Regions from separate parts of the Homo sapiens genome. Here region 2 is linked to region 1. The links come from fine-mapping of genetic effects on gene expression. A gene starts in region 1. The other region holds a variant in brackets. All regions are shown on one strand. Distances are between the middles of the regions.

The links. PIP is the estimated chance that this variant, and not a neighbour inherited with it, causes the effect.
Region 2: its variant is fine-mapped to the expression of SF3A3 in whole blood (TOPMed, PIP above 0.99).

Annotation. Positions count from the first base shown.
Region 1 is chr1:37,986,236-37,994,779 of GRCh38, forward strand. SF3A3 (splicing factor 3a subunit 3) reads right to left here and starts at 3,787. Exons shown (of 17, transcript NM_006802.4): 1 at 3,635-3,787; 2 at 3,313-3,360; 3 at 1,549-1,601; 4 at 1,338-1,443. The coding sequence starts at 3,730. It also overlaps the pseudogene RNU6-510P. RefSeq lists enhancers at 3,039-3,138, 3,839-4,008, 4,400-4,945.
Region 2 is chr1:37,951,297-37,959,840 of GRCh38, forward strand. SF3A3 (splicing factor 3a subunit 3) reads right to left here. Exons shown (of 17, transcript NM_006802.4): 17 at 5,679-6,967. The coding sequence ends at 6,890. Among named protein-coding and RNA genes, the nearest start is that of INPP5B, 8.5 kb to the left of the region's middle. The variant C/T (reference allele first, on the strand shown) is at 3,664.

The DNA of each region.
Region 1 (8,544 bases):
CTGCACCTGGCTACCAGCCTTTCAAATGCATGTTCCATACTCCATACTTCTACTTCCCCATTACCCATCTTTACCTTGTGACCAGATTTCCATTCATACTACTTTAATGAAGCAGCAATCCTGGCAGATATAAATCAATAACAGTTGACACCATGACTGCCTTTCTGAAACTCTCTTTTGCTTAACTTCAGTAAGGCAACACCACCTGGAGTGGTCATGTGACCTTTCTGATGGAAGCCTTCCCAGGCCCTTTTTCTCTTTACCTTATTATAAGTGAGCTCCAGGGCATATGAGGGCCGGGCGCGGTGGCTCATGCCTGTAATCCCAGCACTTTGGGAGGCCGAGGTGGGCGGATCACAAGGTCAGGAGATAGAGACTATCCTGGCTAACATGGTGAAACCCTGTCTCAACTAAAAAATACATAAAATTAGCCAGGCGTGGTGGCAGGCACCTGTAGTCCCAGCTACTCAGGAGGCTGAGGAAGGAGAATGGCATGAACTCGGGAGGTGGAGCTTGCAGTGAGCCGAGATCATGCCACTGCACTCCAGCCTGGGCAACAGAGCGAGACTCCATCTCAAAAAAAAAAAAAAAAAAAAAGACAGAGTTAGGAACACAATTTATTGGGGAGAGTAATTTCTGTGAAAGATAAAAAGGAAGAGAAAGTAGGATTAGGACAGGATAGCCTAGACCACAATGCAGATTGGACAAAATCTTGACCAACCCAACGGGGAGCCATGGAGCAAAGATTATTCATCAGAGGAGTCTCAGAGTGGACCAAATTGCTGGGCCCTAGTACCCATACTGTGCTCAGTCACTGGCTGGGAGCTGCCCACAAAATGTGGCCTTGACTTCTTTTTTTTGAGACAAAGTCTCACTCTTGTCCCCCAGGATGGAGTGCAATGGCGCAATCTCGGCTCACTGCAACCTCCACCTCCCAGGTTCAAGTGATTCTCTTGCCTCAGCCTCCTGAGTAGTTGGGATTACAGGCACATGCCACCATGCCTGGCTAATTTTTGTATTTTTAGTAGAGGTTGAGTTTCACTATGTTGGCCAGGCTGGTCTTGAACTCCTGACCTCAGGTGATCCACCCACCTCAGCCTCCCAAAGTGCTGGGATTACAGGCGTGAGCCACCGTGCCCAGCCGGCCTTGGCTTAAAAGCTGAGGGAGATACTGAAAACACTGTATTGTAGGATGTCAGCTAACTATGGTCCTTGCAGCTAAATGGCAAGTTCTTTCTTGAAGTGCATTTGAATAGCACATGTCCAGTTTCCTTTATACCTTTCCTTTAGTATGCTTTAAGGATAGGTCTGGAGAAAATACTTTTCTGAGGACATACCTCATTTGGGTGCTTCCGGTGGAATTCCTTTATTTGCTTGAGTCTATTATAGAATTCAGCAAACTCATTGGGTCCTGAAATGGCATTGAGCTCCTCCTTTCGTAATCTGCAATTTCAGGAAAATTTCAAAGAAGATAGAGCACAAAGTCAGTCCTCTAACCATGGCTCCTCAGAAGCACTAACTCCTGGATTAGCTGTGACTGTCACTTACCCATCCTTATCATCATACAAATCCCTCAGGTTCCCACTGACCTCCATATACCTCTGAAAGGCAAATACAAAACCATCAGAATGATGCAATTTGCACAACTGTAGAGCTAAGCAAACAACAAGGGTTCTCCAGTCAAAGCCCAGGGCAACCTCAAGAGACATGGATATGAGATAGTCTTAACAGTTCTGTGCTTCCTAGTACCTTTAACAGCCCTGATTCCTGGTTAGTTTTTTAATAGCCCTTTAACAGCCTTGATTCCTGTTTAGTTTTTTAAGCAGGTCGATTGGAAGATTACCTAAATGATACATTTAAGGGGTGGCTCCTATCTTTACATACCACCGATGCCTAACTTCCCCTGTAACAGACTCACCCTCTTTGGCCAAACACTAGTTCCCACCTAACATCCTCAAAGATAAAGATGATATTCACTATTTCAAAACGCTTGACTGAGGAGTAGGCAGGCTAAATAAACATTACATAGGCTTCCTTTGTAGTCAAAGTATACTAATTCAGGATGGTACAGGTACATAGTCCCTCCTCCAAAACTTTTGGGACCAGATTTGTTTCAGAATTTGGAATGTTTAAGTTCAAAAGAGGTATCATATATTATGTAACATCCCTAGTGGAATCTGGAGCACACAGTTCTGCAGTAAACCTCATACCTTATTTACCAAGTGGGATAAATTAAAGACCATAAAAAGCCTATCACAGGTTCGGGCCAGGTTTTACTGTCAAGTGAGATCAGGTCAGATTTTGACACCAAATAATCACCCAAGGGGAAAAAAAGAAAATCCTTGGTTTTCAGAGTATTTTGGGGCTGAGGGCTTGTAATCTGATAATCTCCTGCAAATCAGAAGGTCCAAGTAGGTCTTTTATTCCTTTTTAAACAGGTTTCAAACATACACAAGAGTAAGGAACGTAGTAAAATGAACCTCCATTTATTCATCACCCAGTTTAAATAGCATCTTGTTTTTCTTTTAATAAACTGAACTATTACCAGACAAATGCAGTTTAGTAGTCCAAAACGCTTTAAAGTAGTATCCTGGGAGAAAAACACTAACATACGGGGTGTGTTGTGTGTGTGTGTGTGTGTGTGTATATATATATATATATTTTTTTTTTCATTTAAGGGAAGGATTGTAGCTATGCACCTGAGTCATGGACTCTTCATAACTATTGTTTGCACATCCAAGGGATACAGGATGCTGTAAGAATGGGCACGTGTAAGCCGGCCGCGGTGGCTCAAGCCTGTAATCTCAGCACTTTGGGAGGCCGAGGTAGGTGGATCACGAGGTCAGGAGTTCGAGACCAGCCTGACCAACATGTTTAGTAGAAACTCCGTCTCTACTAAAAATACAAAAATTAGCTGAGCGTGGTGGCGAGCGCCTGTAGTCCCAACTACTCCGGAGGCTGAGGCAGGAGAATCGCTTGAACCCAGGAGGCGGAGGTTGCAGTGAGCCGAGACCGCGCCACTGCACTCCAGCCTAGGCAACAGAGCGAGACTCCGTCCAAAAGAAGAAGAAGAAGAAAAAAAAAAAGGGCACCTTTCTGATTAATGAAGAATGCCCAAGAGTTCCCCATTCAGAGAACTGAGGAAGCACCCTCACGTTCGGCAGCCTGTGGACATCTGTCCAGGCAGAGAGCCCGCGACTGGCCAATCCGGTTACCTTTGGCCAGGGACTCATGCTGAGACACCGCACTTCACTTCCCCTCTCTTTTCCCGCCCTCGCCAACCCAAAGAGAGGCAGACAGCTGGGCACTCACATCTTGCATGGCCCGAGTGCGGTGATCAGAATTGATCTGGTCCCGGAGCTGAAAAAACAAACGGTGACACAAACGCCGTTAGTTTGCGTTCTGGAGTAGAAAAGGCCGCCCGAGGGCGGAGCTTACCCGCTCAGCTTTTACCAGCTGAGGCAGAAAGGCCTCTGGGGCTCCGGACCCCGGGAGGAGGTTACCAAGACCGGAGCTCGGAGAGGGAGCCCGGAGGAAGGCAGGGAGGTTCTGAGGGCCAAAGCAAGCTCTCAGAGGTCAAACACGGGATAGAGGCTCGTGCTCCTGCCGCAGCCTCTGCTCAGGCCCCACTCACCGTGGACTTCTTGGTGAGCATCTCTTTAGCCATGACGTCCATGAGCCGTTCCTTCTCCTCATGATAGCGCCGCTGCTGCTCCAGTATTGTCTCCATCTTCCCTTAGTCGCGGCTTCTCAATTCAGACCACCAACACGGCCGGAAGCAACTCCTGCCGCCCAGCGCGCCTGAGTCCCCACGTTGCGCATCAGGCTGCACCAAAGTTCCGCGAGTGCCGGAAGTGCCCCGGGACTTAAGAAAACAGGAGCACCACAAGGAAGGCCAGTCCATGTTATGGAGATGGCAACAGTGCCACCTGCTGGTGGGAGGTGTGGTGGAGCGATGCCGAGAGGTTCGCAGATGCCTCCAGGGGGCATAGGAAAACCCAAGAACCTGAGGTTCAGCGGACGGCTTCCTGCGGCTTGCTGGGGCCGGCTTGGCGGGCAGGTATCCTGTGTGGACTGCGCGAGCAGTTGGAGTGCGGATGGGAGTTGGGAAACCGGAACTTGAGGACGCAGCTTTCAGCATAAATTATGAGAACGTTTTCTCTTTCTCTGGACCTCAGCGTCTTTCTCAGGAAAATGGGAATAGTGGGGTTTTGCTGGTGGTGTTTTTAAAAAAATTCACATGTGAGGCCGGGCGCGGTAGCTCACGCCTGTAATCCCAACACTTTGGGAGGCCGAGGCGGGCGGATCACTTGAGGTCAGAGGTTCGAGACGACCAGGCTGGCTAACATGGTGAAACCCCGTCTCTACTAAAAACAAACAAACAAAAATTAGCCGGGCGTGATGGCAGGCGCCTGTAGTCCCAGCTACTCCGGAGGCTGAGGCAGGAGAATCGCTTGAACCCGGGAAGCAGAGGTTGCCGTCAGCTGAGATCGTGCCACTGCACTCCAGCCTGGGCGACAGAATGAGACTCAGTCTCAAAAAAAAAAAAAAAAAAGAAATTCACGTGTAGAAACGACTTGTCTATCGGCAGCGAATATGTTAAATAAAATACTGTGCATCCAACGAGATCAGGAGATTGAGACCATCCTGTCTAACACGGTGAAACCCCGTCTCTACTAAAACTGCAAAAAATTAGCCGGGCATGGTGGCGCGCGCCTGTAGTCACAGCTACTCGGGAGGCTGAGGCAGGAGAATCACTTGAACCCAGGAGGCAGAGGTTGCAGTGAGCTGAGATCATGCCACTGCATTCCAGCTTGGGCGACAGAGAGAGACTCCGTCTCAAAAAAAAGTAAAATAAAATAAAATAAAATACTGTGCATCCAAGCAGTGGAAGACCAGCTGTGAAATGACATACAGCCTTAAAAAAAATTCTGTCTATATATCTCCACTTGTAGGTAGAGAAATGCAAACATGTCCATGTGTTCATATGTTCACAGCGGCATTATTCATAATAGACAAAAACTGGATGCAGCCCAAGAGTCCATTAACTGGCAAATGGATAAAGTGTGGTATATCTATACAGTACAATGGAACATTATTCTGCAATAAATGAATACTACAATGATGAACCATGAAAGCATCATGCTAAGTGAAAGAAGCTAGACAGAAAAACAACAGTGTATGTCCAGATAAAACGTCCAGAACGGTGTTAAAAGAAAAACACTGGTGCTTGCTATGGCAGCACATATACTAAAATTGGAACCATACAGAGAAGATTAGCATGGCCCCTGCAAAAAGAAAAAAAAAAAAAAACACCGGTTATTACAGCTTGGTCTTTGCCTTATTTGAACACGGTTTGCATAGTTTGCCATGTTTGATTGGCCAAAACTCGGTGATTGGCAAAGAGTAGGCTATGGTCTGTTTACAACTCCATTTAGGTTATAGTTCACAATGTACAGAGAAACCTTTAGGCTAAATTTAAAATATGTAAGGAGGCAGCTTTAGGCTACAATTGAGTTAACAAAGGCAAATCTATGGAGGCAGAAATATGAGTGGTTGCTTGTGACCGCAGGTGAGATTGGAAGTGATTACAAATGCGCACAAGGAATCCATTTTGGATGGGTAGAAATGTTCTAAAATTGGATTGTGGTGATAGTTGCATAACTCTATTCATTTTATTAAAATTAATTGCTTTGTACTGTTAAAAATGGGTGAATTTTATGGTATATAAATTACACTTCAATAAAACTGTTAAAAACTCTGTATGAACTCATATGGAGAGATGGCCACACAAACTGAAAAAAGCTAGATGCACAAGTGTGTATAAAAATAGATGTGCAAAGAGATTATTTCTGTAAGGATATCCAAGTAACAGTAAACAGTGGTTGTTCCTGAGCAGACAGCCTTGGAGATCTGATATGGGAGATTTTTCTTTGTATACACCCCAAGCACAGCATAAAAAGTTATTCTTAAACATACTTTTTCAATTTAAAAATTAATTTAAAACTGAAAATACATATGTGCACATTTATGTTTAACAAAAAAGAACGAGGAGGACATAATGCATCACATTATTAGTAATTTACCTATTGTTCACTTTTTTCTTTTTTTTCTTTTTCTTTTTTTTTTTGATAGGGTCTCTCTCTGTTGCCCCAGGCTGGAGTGCAGTGGCATAATCATGGCTCACTGCAGCCTCCACCCCTGTGGCCCCCACAGGTGGGTGCCACCACCCTGGTTAATTTTTTATTTTTTTCCCACGCAACAAAAGCCACATTTAAAGTTTTGTTTTGGGAGTCTCGCTCTGTCGCCAGGCTGGAGTGCAGTGGCGCGATCTCAGCTCACGGCAACCTCTACCTCCTGTGTTCAAGCGATTCTCCTGCCTCAGCCTCCTGAGTAGCTGGGATTACAGGTGACTGCCACCACACCTGGCTAGTTTTTGTATTTTTAGTAGAGACGGGCTTTCACTATGTTGGCCAGGCTGGTCCTGAACTCCTGACCTCCGGGTGATCTGCCTGCCTTGGCCTCCCAAAATGCTGGGATTACAGGTGTGAGCCACCGCACACCAAAAAACTGCGAGGTTTTTTGTTTTTTGTTTTTTTTTGAGACAGGGTCTTTCTGTGTCATCCAAGCTGGAGTGCAGTGGCACGATCTTGGCTCACTGCAACCTCTACCTCCTGGGTTCAAGCAATTCTGCCTCAGTCTCCCTAGTAGCTGGGATTACAGGTGCGTGGCACCATGCCCAGCTAATTTTTGTATTTTTAGCAGAGATGGGGTTTTGCTATGTTGGCCAGGCTGGTCTTGAACTCCTGCCCTCAGGGTGATCCGCCCACCTTGGCCTCCCAAAATGCTGGAATTACAGGCATGAGCTACCACACCAAGCCAAGGTTTTTCTTTTTTTTTTGAGACAGGGTCTTGCCAAGCTGGAGTACAGTGGCACAATCTTGGCTCACTGCAGCCTCGACCTCCTGGGCTAAAGCTATCCTCCCACTTCAGCCTCCTGAGTAGCTGGGACTATAGATGTGCGCCACTACACCCTGCTAATTTTTGTATTTTTTGTAGAGATGGGGTTTTTTGCCGTGTTGCCCAGGCTGGTCTCAAACTCCTGGACTCAAGCGATCTTCCTGCCTTGGCCTCCCAAAATGCTGGGATTATAGGCATGAGCCACCAGACCCGCTGTAATTTTTTAAAAATTTTTACTAGAGATGAGGTCTCACAGTGGTGCCCAGGCTTGTCTGCAACTCCTGAGCTCAAGCAATCCTCCTGCCTTGGCCTCCCAAAGTGCTGGGATTATAGGCGTGAGCCACCGCACCCAGCCCAATTTTTCTACAGTAAACATGCATTACTTTTTGTTTTTAAAAGTTTGAAAGCAGGCTGGGTGCAGTGGCTCACGCCTGTAATCCCAGCACTTTGGGAGGCCAAGCTGGGAATTTCGCTTAAAGCCAGGAGTTCTAGAACAGTCTGGGCAACATAGCGAGACCTCATCTCTACAAAAAATAAGAAAATTAGCTGGGCTTGCTGGCATTTGCCCGTACTCCCAGCTACCTGGGAGGCTGAGGCGGGAGGATCACTTGAGCCCAGGGGTTTGAGGTTACAGTGAGCTATAATCTTCAAGCCTGGGTGACACCCTGTCTCAAAAAAGAAAAAAAAAGTTTGAAAAAACGGAGGCTGGGCATGGTGGCTCACGCCTGTAATCCCAGCACTTTGGGAGGCCGAGGCGGCAGATCACGAGGTCAAGAGATCAAGACCATCCTGGCCAACATGGTGAAACCCCTGTCTCTACTAAAAATACAACAAAATTAGCTGGGCATGGTGGCGCACGCCTGTAGTCCCAGCTACTTGAGAGGCTGAGGCAGGAGAATCACTTGAACCCGGCAGGTGGAGGTTGTAGTGAGCCGAGATCGCGCCACTGCACTCCAGCCTGGCGATAGAGTGAGACTCTGTCTCAATAAATAAATAAATATAAAATGGAAATAGTGACCTGTGTTTTGCCCACTCATGAGGGTGTTATGGGGATCTTATTTGTATATCGGAAATTTAAGCAGGACTGCCAAGCTTAGGGAAAGGACCCAGTCACAACTCATCTGGGGCTTTTCCTGGGACATTAGGAAAGAGGTAAAGTAGAAATCTCCATTCAGGGAGTGGGGAGACTCAGCAAATGTTTTTTGTTTTGTTTTGTTTTTTGGGGGGTATAAACTTGGAGAGCTACTGTATTTCTTGAATACGAGATGCCATCAAATGTAAAACTCAGTATTATTTTATGCTTTACTAAGGAAGAGAGAAAAAATTGTCAATTAAACAATGACACACCTTTGATTATATGTCTGGGTTTCTTTTTTTTTAAGACGGAGTTTTGCTCTTGTCCCCCAGGCTGGACTGCAGTGGTGCTATCTCGGCTCACTGCAACTTCCATCTCCGGATTCAAGTAATTCTCCTGCCTCAACCTCCGGAGTAGCTGGGATTACAGATGCCTGCCACCACACCCAGCTAATTTTTGTATTTTTAGTAGAGGCGAGGCTTCACCATGTTGTCCAGGCTGGTCTCAAA
Region 2 (8,544 bases), 35 kb before region 1:
GTTTCATTTCCCCCTTCACAGCTGAAGCTGCACCAGGCCATGTAGTGGGAAGCGTTGAGTTGAATCAGCTGGGTAGAGAGAATGCAGGCATGTCCAGGAGGATGGGGGCACAGCCAGGCCTGGGCCATAGCTCCACGTTCCCAGCATCCCAGATACTGACTCCTCTCCCTCCCGCTTCAGGATCTGTTCCTGCACCTTACTGTACCTGAATGTCAATCCCCCTTCCAATGGCCTCCCTCCACTCTCCTTCACCTCTGAGAAGTACCCTGGCTTGGGTCCCTCACAGCCCCAGCCCCACACCTCGCAGTGGTGCTGCCCGGGCTAACACTCTGTGGTCTGGTTGGAGAACTTTTCCTCCTGGTAGCACATCTCTCCGAGGCAGTGGAAGTTGTGGCATATCTGCGGAAAGGTTTGACCACTGTGGTCACACGCCTGGGGCTGAAGGCATTAGGAAGGCTGTCCCCTCCCTCATATGCTGCTTACCTGGACAGGAGCAGGGGTCAACTGACTGCTTGCCAGGTTCTGGGCTACCAGTAAGGCCAGCAGGAGGACTGATAGGAGGAAAAGGAGAGAGGGAGCCACTGCAGAGGCTGAGGCAGGTGAATCATGAGGTCAGGAGTTCAAGGCCATAACCAGCTCAAAGGTCATAGGTCAAAGAAAGGTCATGCAGCAGTTAAGTGGAAGAGGTCATGAACTTAGGGAAAAGTAGGGGCAGTCCCAGGGTCCAGCAGTAGTCATGGTCCAGGAAAGGCCAGGATCCCTGGGCTGAGGACAGCTACCTCTGAGCAAAGCAGCTCTGTGGCTACCATTGGCCACATACATCTTCAACTGAGGTGCTGCAGGAGCCAGAGAGAGGGAAGGACCAGTTCTGGCCAGCTGAGGAAACCTACAAGCAAAATTTCCATTACTGTACTATGCAGATGAATAAATTGAGGCTGGGGAACTAGGGTGGGGGTGGGTCAACCTTTAGGGAATAAGAGGTCTCAGGGGCTCAGCTTTCGCTTCCTGCAAGTCATACTGTCAGAGTGACACTGGGGCAGGCACAAAGGGGCCTGCATCCCAGTAACAGCCCCCCGAGACACATTTTGTCACTGGCATGGCAACAGCAGCATCCCAGCCTGAGGGGAGGCAGAACTGGAGCAGGTGCAGTGACAGGAAATACATACCCAGTGACTCTGATCTGGTCTCATTTGCTGCCAACGTCAGAAGGTGCCCGGGTGTGGGAAGGTGGGAGTCATGGGCTTCCTCAGAACCCAGGGCAGGAAAACCCTAGGCCACAGAGGGTCAAAAGTCCAGACTCACTTTGTCCAAGTGTTCTTCAGGATTCAGACCCCAGCCTGTCCCTAAATGAGTGCTGAGCCAAAGATAGGAGGTAGCTCTCAGACTTTGGGTTCCTGGATCCCAGACTCTGCCCCCTGCAACACTAAGGGGCCACACCTAGAAAGGTCTGCTAAGCCTGGGTTTAGGTTTTTCCATACAAGGTAGGAAACTGCTAGAGATGAGAGTGGGGCATTATTCCTATCTTCTCGCCCAGCCCTGGAAGCTGAGCACAACCCAGACCCTACCATTCCCAATGCTAATGGGGCATCTGTTTCCCTGCCCTCATGGATGTAATCCTCCATCAGCACTCAGACTTGTCTCTCAAGTGACAGCAGCCAGGGTGATGCGATACACAGGAGAGTGTGCAGCAAGGACTCCTGGGTTGGGCCCTTCTGATGGTGTCAGCCTCTCTGTTGCCCATCCGTCCCCCCCACCAACAAACACTACACTCAAGAAACAGTTCTCTTGCTGGGCATGGTGGCTCACACCTATAATCCCAGTGACTCAGGAGGCTGGGGCAGGAGAACTGCTTCAGGCCAGAATTTCAAGACCAGCCTGGGCAAGATAGTGAGATTCCCTTCTCTACAAAAAATTAGCTGGGCATGGAGGTGTGCATCTGTAGTCCTAGCTACTTGGGAGGCTGAGGTGGGGAGGTCACTTGAGCCTGAGAGTTGGGAGGCTGCAGTGAGCTATGATCATGCCACTGCACTCTAGCCTGGGTAACAGTGAGACCTTGTTAAAAAAAAAGTTTTTGGGGCCGGGCACGGTGGCTCACACCTGTAATCTCAGCACTTTGAGAGGCCAAGGCAGGTGGATCATGAGGTCAGGAGTTCAAGGCCAGCCTGGCCCATATGGTGGAACCCCGTCTCTACCAAAAACATGAAAAAATTAGCCAGGTGTGGCAGCGCACACCTGTAGTCCCAACTACTCGGGAGGCTGAGGCAGGAGAATTGCTTGAACCCGGGAGGCAGAGGCTGCCCTGAGCCGAGATTGCACCACTGCACTCCAGCCTGGGCGACAGAGCGAGACTCCGTCTTACAAAAAAAAAAAAAAAGTGACAGAGCGAGACAGAGTCTCACTCTGTCGCCCAGGCTGGAGTGCAGTGGTGCGATCTCGGCTCACTGTAGCCTCTGCCTCCCGGGTTCAAGCAATTCTCCTGCCTCAGCCTCCCGGGTAGCTGGGACTACAGGTGCGTGCTGCCATGCCCGACTAATTTTTGTATTTTTAGTAGAGATGGGGTTTCACCATGTTGGCCAGAAAGGTCTTGATCTCCTGACCTCATGATCTGCCTGCCTTGGCCTCCCATAGTGTTTGGATGACAGGTGTGAGCCACCGTGCCTGGCCTCCCATAGTGTTTGGATTACAGGTGTGAGTCACCGCGCCCGGCCAAATGAAGTTTTTACACAGTCAGCCCCTCTCCAAGGGGACTTCGGTTTCCAAAGGCCAAAGGTTCAAAGGGCTCAAAGGTTCTACCCAGGTCCCTGAAGCTTTGTGAAGAGCCCAGGCTTCCCACAGAAGCCCCTTTCCTCCTCCTTACTTTGCACAGTTGAGGCTGGAGGGACATCTCAGGAATATGATGGGGCAGGTGGACAGACACTGAGCAGAATCAGAAGGCTGGGCAAAGATAGATGGGTACCTCCTAGGCTGTATTAATCCAGGCTTCTTGTCCATCTCCTTTAGTCTGTGTGCCCCTCCATGGCTAGAGCATATTCTCAATATTCTCTGTGCCCCACCCTATCCCAGCTATAGACCTACCTGCACACTTGAAGGTGCAGAGGGCTGTGAGTGTGCATGCACAAGGCAGGGAGGCTACAGCTGCCGCCCCTGGAAACTGGAAGCTGCCCTTTCTCCTCCCCTCCAATCACTTGTCACCTCTGGGATTTGCCTCTCATGTTGCTGCCACCAGGGACACACAGGGACCACAGAAAAGAAGAAAGCATAGCTGCTGCCCAGACTGTAGTTGGAGGGAGAAAATAAAGCCACTTGAGCAGATCAAAAGACCGCTGTCCCAGCATCCCACTGGGAGGTGCCTTATTTGTCTGGATCGGAAACCTGGCAGGTGGAGAGGGCTCTCAGAAGAGATCAGAGGGAGAGGAGACCAGTGTCCTCCCAGGGTGGACCTGTAATGGGAGGACTCTTCTGGATGAGGGTGGAGAGGGTCACAGGTTCATTCCCACCCTGAGAACTCTGAGCTGAGGCTGACAGTAGGACCTGAAGGATGAGGAGAAAGGTTGCTATCATCCCAAGGATTTTTTTTTTTTTTAATGCAGAGGGAGAGAAATATCTCACAACTTCACTTCCCCAACACATTGGTTACCTTTAGGGTGCTCCCTTCACAGAGCC[C/T]TCCAGCACAAGTTGACCCCAGGGAGGGAAATGGACAGAAAATGGAGAAGAAAGGGATACCTGGTTGAAGCCAGAGACAGATTTCTTCACTTTCATCTGAGAAGTAGAGAGTAAAGACTCCTCCTGGGAGGGCTCATTCCAGGTGCAGCCTCTGGGTTTAGCAGCACCAATCTGAGGGTCAATCCCAGGAACAACTCCCTAAATGCTCCCTGCAGCTTTCCTCCATGAAGAGCTAATTGAATTAACTGTTCCCAGCAGTAAGTGCATTGGCAAAGGTTCCGACTCCATGTCTAAGAAAGATTCTTGGCTGGGCACAGTGGCTCATGACTGAAATCCCAGCACTTTGGGAGGCTGAGGCAGGTGGTCAATTGAAATTCTCTTCCTTTGGTTGACCCTATGGAGTCCAAACCTGAAGGATCACCTCTGAGAACCAATTCTGATGTGGTTTGCCTTCACCTCAGAAAACAGCTGTGCCCCTTGCAGCTGGATGGAGCTGGCCATATGGCTCTTCCTGCGTGCCCAGAGGCTGCTGCTGAGCTTCTTCACCTCTGGCTTCTGCCCTCACTGTCTCACCTCCGCTTTAGTTTTCAAGGTTTGATCTAGCTGTGCCTGGCACATGGAAGGCACTAAAAAAACCCTGAATGAATGAAGGTAACAAATGAACAAGCCTTTGCTGTGACAGGTAAGCCCGAGGTTCCCTCCAAGGTTGTTCTGGCACAGAGTTCGCACACTGACTGCAGTTACTGGGCAAGGGGATGGCAGGACTCCTTAGGACCTGGTCCCACTTCCTCTCCACACTGTAGAGGGAGAACCTATTAACCCTGGAGTCCCAGGTAGCCTCAAGACAGGGTTTTGAGGACTCCAACAGCTGGAAAGTAGCAGGTGCATTCCTTGGTAGCCCAATGCAGCCCCTGTTCTGACGAGCAGTCTGAAGGGCCGTCTTCTCCCCACATTTCCCATTCCAACGCTTTAACTCTCTTCTCAAATGGCAATGTCTCCTTGCACTTTGGGCCAGTTTCCACTAATCAGTGTTTCCAGTTGGCTCAATTAGGTTTAATTATTCACTCACTCTGCTTCAGCTCAGGCCCTGGAGAGGCTGTCCAACTGGAGTCTTATTTTTTTGAGACAGAGTTTCACTCTTGTTGCCCAGGCTGGAGTGCAATGGCGCGATCTCGGCTCACTGCAACCTCCGCCTCCCAGGTTCAAGTGATTCTCCTGCCTCAGCCTCCCAAGTAGCTGGGATCGCAGGCATGTGCCACCACGCCTGGCTAATTTTGTATTTTTAGTAGAGACAGGGTTTCTCTATGTTGGTCAGGCTGGTCTTGAACTCCCGACCTCAAGTGATCCGCCTGCCTCGGCCTCCCAAAGTGCTGGGATTACAGGCATGAGCCACTGCACCCGACCTGGAGTCTTAAATGAAGGAGTGAAGGCACAAGGGAATGAGTTGCACAGGGATGGGCTGAACTAGGAAGGAAAATACCAACCTAGAGTGCAGTGCCACTGGGGTGGGGGTGGTGAAACTTTACTGCCATGGAAATAACCAGGGCAAAAGATTGGTGTGAGGCAGAAGGCTAATTCAAGTTGGGATTTTTTTTTTTTTTTTTTTGAGACGGAGTCTCGCTGTCACCCAGGCTGGAGTGCAGTGGCGTGATCTCGGCTCATGGCAACCTTCGCCTCCTGGGTTCAAGTGATCCTCCTGCCTCAGTCTCCTGAGTACCTGGGACTACAGGTGCATGCCATCACGCCTGGCTAATTTTTGTATTTTTAGTAGAGACAGGGTTTCGCCATGTTGGCCAGGCTGGTCTCCAACTCCTGACCTCAAGTAATTTGCTGCCCTCGGCCTCCCAAAGTGTTTGGATTACAGGCATCAGCTACTGCGCATGGCCTGAGTTGGAATTTTTAAAAGTAGATATATTAGCCAGCCTGCCTCTGCATGGGATGAGTGCGGCACTGGTTCTTGGTAGGTTTTTAGAAAAATAAGATATAAATGTGTAATATAAAGAAAAAGATTAACATTTTTTTAAAAAGTAGATTTATTAAAAAACAGTTGAAGGTCTGAGTGTTGAGAGGCAAATGGGGTCTCTGGGGGATCCTGTCCTGCAGCAGGCCTGACTTTCAGATGACTGTGCTTATAAGGCAGATCAGTGCCTTCCTGGTTGCCTTAGTTCTTTCCATTTCAGACACCACATTTGGATCCTGGGGCAGCTGCTCAACTCTACCCAACTCTACCATGGCTACCTGGGATTGGAGAACATGTGAGTATTAGCTACTTTTACAGTCAAATAGGGATCTTGTAGAAGAAACAGGTAGACAGACCCACCAGTCTCTCATTCTGACCTAGCAAGCTGGTGAAGTCACTGTCGGTCCTAGTTCCCTTGTTTGTTGGGCTGCAGGCCCATTCCAACACAGCCCAACTCCCCCCCCCCCCCCTTTTTTTTTTTTTGAGATGGGGCCTCACTATATCGCCCAGGCTGGTCTCAAACTCCTAGGTTCAAAGGATCTTCTAGCCTCAGTCTCCTGAGTAGCTGGGACTACAGTGCGTGCCACCATGCCTTTTTTTTTTTTTTAATGAGACAGGGTCTCACTATGTTACCTAGGCTAGTCTCAAGCAACCCTCCTGCCTCAGCCTCCCAAGTAGCTGGGACTACAGGCACAAGCCACTGCACCCAGCTCCAACTCCTTTCTTTATGCAAATACAAAAGGCAAACCTTGGTGCGACACTTAGTCCTTAGTAGCAACCCTGGCTCATCCTCCTAGTCTTTCCCTAGTATTTGCATCAATGGCTAACTAAGCTGATGGCAGACCTCATCCTGGGGTAATACTCATTCAGGGAAGCAGCAACAAAGGAGGGTGGGGAAAGAGGTCAGGTCAGATTTACCTAACATGATATGTAGCATAATAGGTGCCCATTAAATCTCAGCTACTAGTAAAGTTGGTGAGGAAGAGGTATGGAGGCGTTAAGACCTGAAGCACTGAGTTGGTCCATAACCCTGGGCTTTAGAACAAGGTCTGGTTTTATTTTCTGGCAGAATCTTTTAAAATATAAAACAGATAAAACACATCTCAACCCTGCAATCTGCCAGCATGCCTTGTTTCTACAAGATGCATGCTAGACCATGAGACTACATAGCAAAGGGTCTTTAAGAGGATTTGGTTGGGAGAAATAGAAAAAGCAGATCTTAGGGAAGCCTGGGCTAGCCCAAAAGCTGAGCTACATCCCTGAACACTAGAGCAGTCCTTGTCTTTTCAGATCCTCGTATGTCTTCTTATTCACAACATTCCCACTTGAGTCTTCATATTCTTCCTGAAAAGGAAGGGGTACACTTTGTTAGACAGCTCTCCTAAAAGAAATGTTTGGAACCAATCTCTAAGTACCTGAGCTCATCCTGGCCTGATTCCATGGCATACTCTGGTACACTAAGATTGGCATTCATCTAAGCCTTTCTCAACTGGGGTTCCACAAGAGAATTAAGTCCCACTGCCCCAAAGCAGCCACCGTGTGCAATGAATTAACTTCTCTCGTAGACATCTAGAATGATATCAGTCATGACCCATCATTAGAGTATCTGAGAAAATAGTTTATTTAGCTCTCTATGTTTAAGATGGGGAACCCTGGTTGAGAAAGGCTGACCTACAACAGCAGTTTTCAAATGGTTCCCAAGAATCCCAGGATTCTGCTCAGAGGCCATTGCAGGGGTTGAAAGGGAAGCCAGGAAGTCTGAGCTTCCCCATGTCCAGGGCAATTCTGCTTGATTCTATTTTATATATCAGAGTACTATATTACAAGTGGAAGAGAGTTTTGCTGCCAAAAAGAAAAAAAATACTGAAAACCACTGACTCAAAAAAAGGGAGGCTATTGTCAGTTACTATGGGACTTGGAGTGAGTCAGTACCATTCCTTACATACATGTCATTCTTGATCTCTGAAACCTGCTGCTTGGGATGACCATCATAAGACCAACAAGGACATCTCCCTGTCGCTATGAGAGTATCATCTCTCATTAGATGCTTTCCTCAAAGGAGATCTAATACATGATACAGAGTCTCGGCATTTTAGTCTATAAATCTCCATGGCAGAACATGAGATTGGGTACTCCCACTTGCCATTTCAACTTTTTTTTCTTTTTTTTTTTTTTGTGAGGTAAGTTCTTGCTCTGTCACCCAGGCTGGAGTGCAATGGTGCGATCACAGCTCACTGCACCCTCGACAGCCTGGGCTCAAGCAATCCTCCTGCTTCAGCCTCCTGAACAGCTGGGACCACAGGCATGTGCCACCACTCCCCGCTAATTATTGTATTTTTTGTAGAGATATGGTTTCACCATGTTGCCCAGGCTGGTCTCCAATTCCTGGGCTCAAGTGATCTGCCTGCTTTGGCCTCCCAAAGTGCTGGGATTATGGGCATGAACTGCTGCACCTGGCCCATTTCAAAATTTGAATGGCAGAATACAATCTGTCTTTTTGTTGTTAAAGAGACAGGGTCTTACTCTGTCACCCAGACTGGAGTGCAGTGGTATGATCATAGCTCAGCAGCTGCCTCAAATTCCTGGGCTCAAGCGTTCCTCCTGCCTCAGTCCCAATTAGCTGGGACTACTAGCATGCGCCACCACACTTGGCTAATTATTATTATTATTATTTTTTGAGAAAGAGTCTTGCTCTGTCACCCAGGCTGGAGTGCAGTGGCACAATCTCGGCTCATGCAACCTCTACCTCCCCAGTTCAAGTGATTCTCGTGCCTAGGCCTCCCAAGTAGCTGGGACTACAGGCGTGCATGGGTGGATCACCTGAGGTGAGGAGTTTGAGACCAGTCTGGCCAACATGGTGAAACCCTGTCGCTACTAAAAATACAAAAATTAGTCGGGTGTGGTGGCGGGCGCCTGTAATC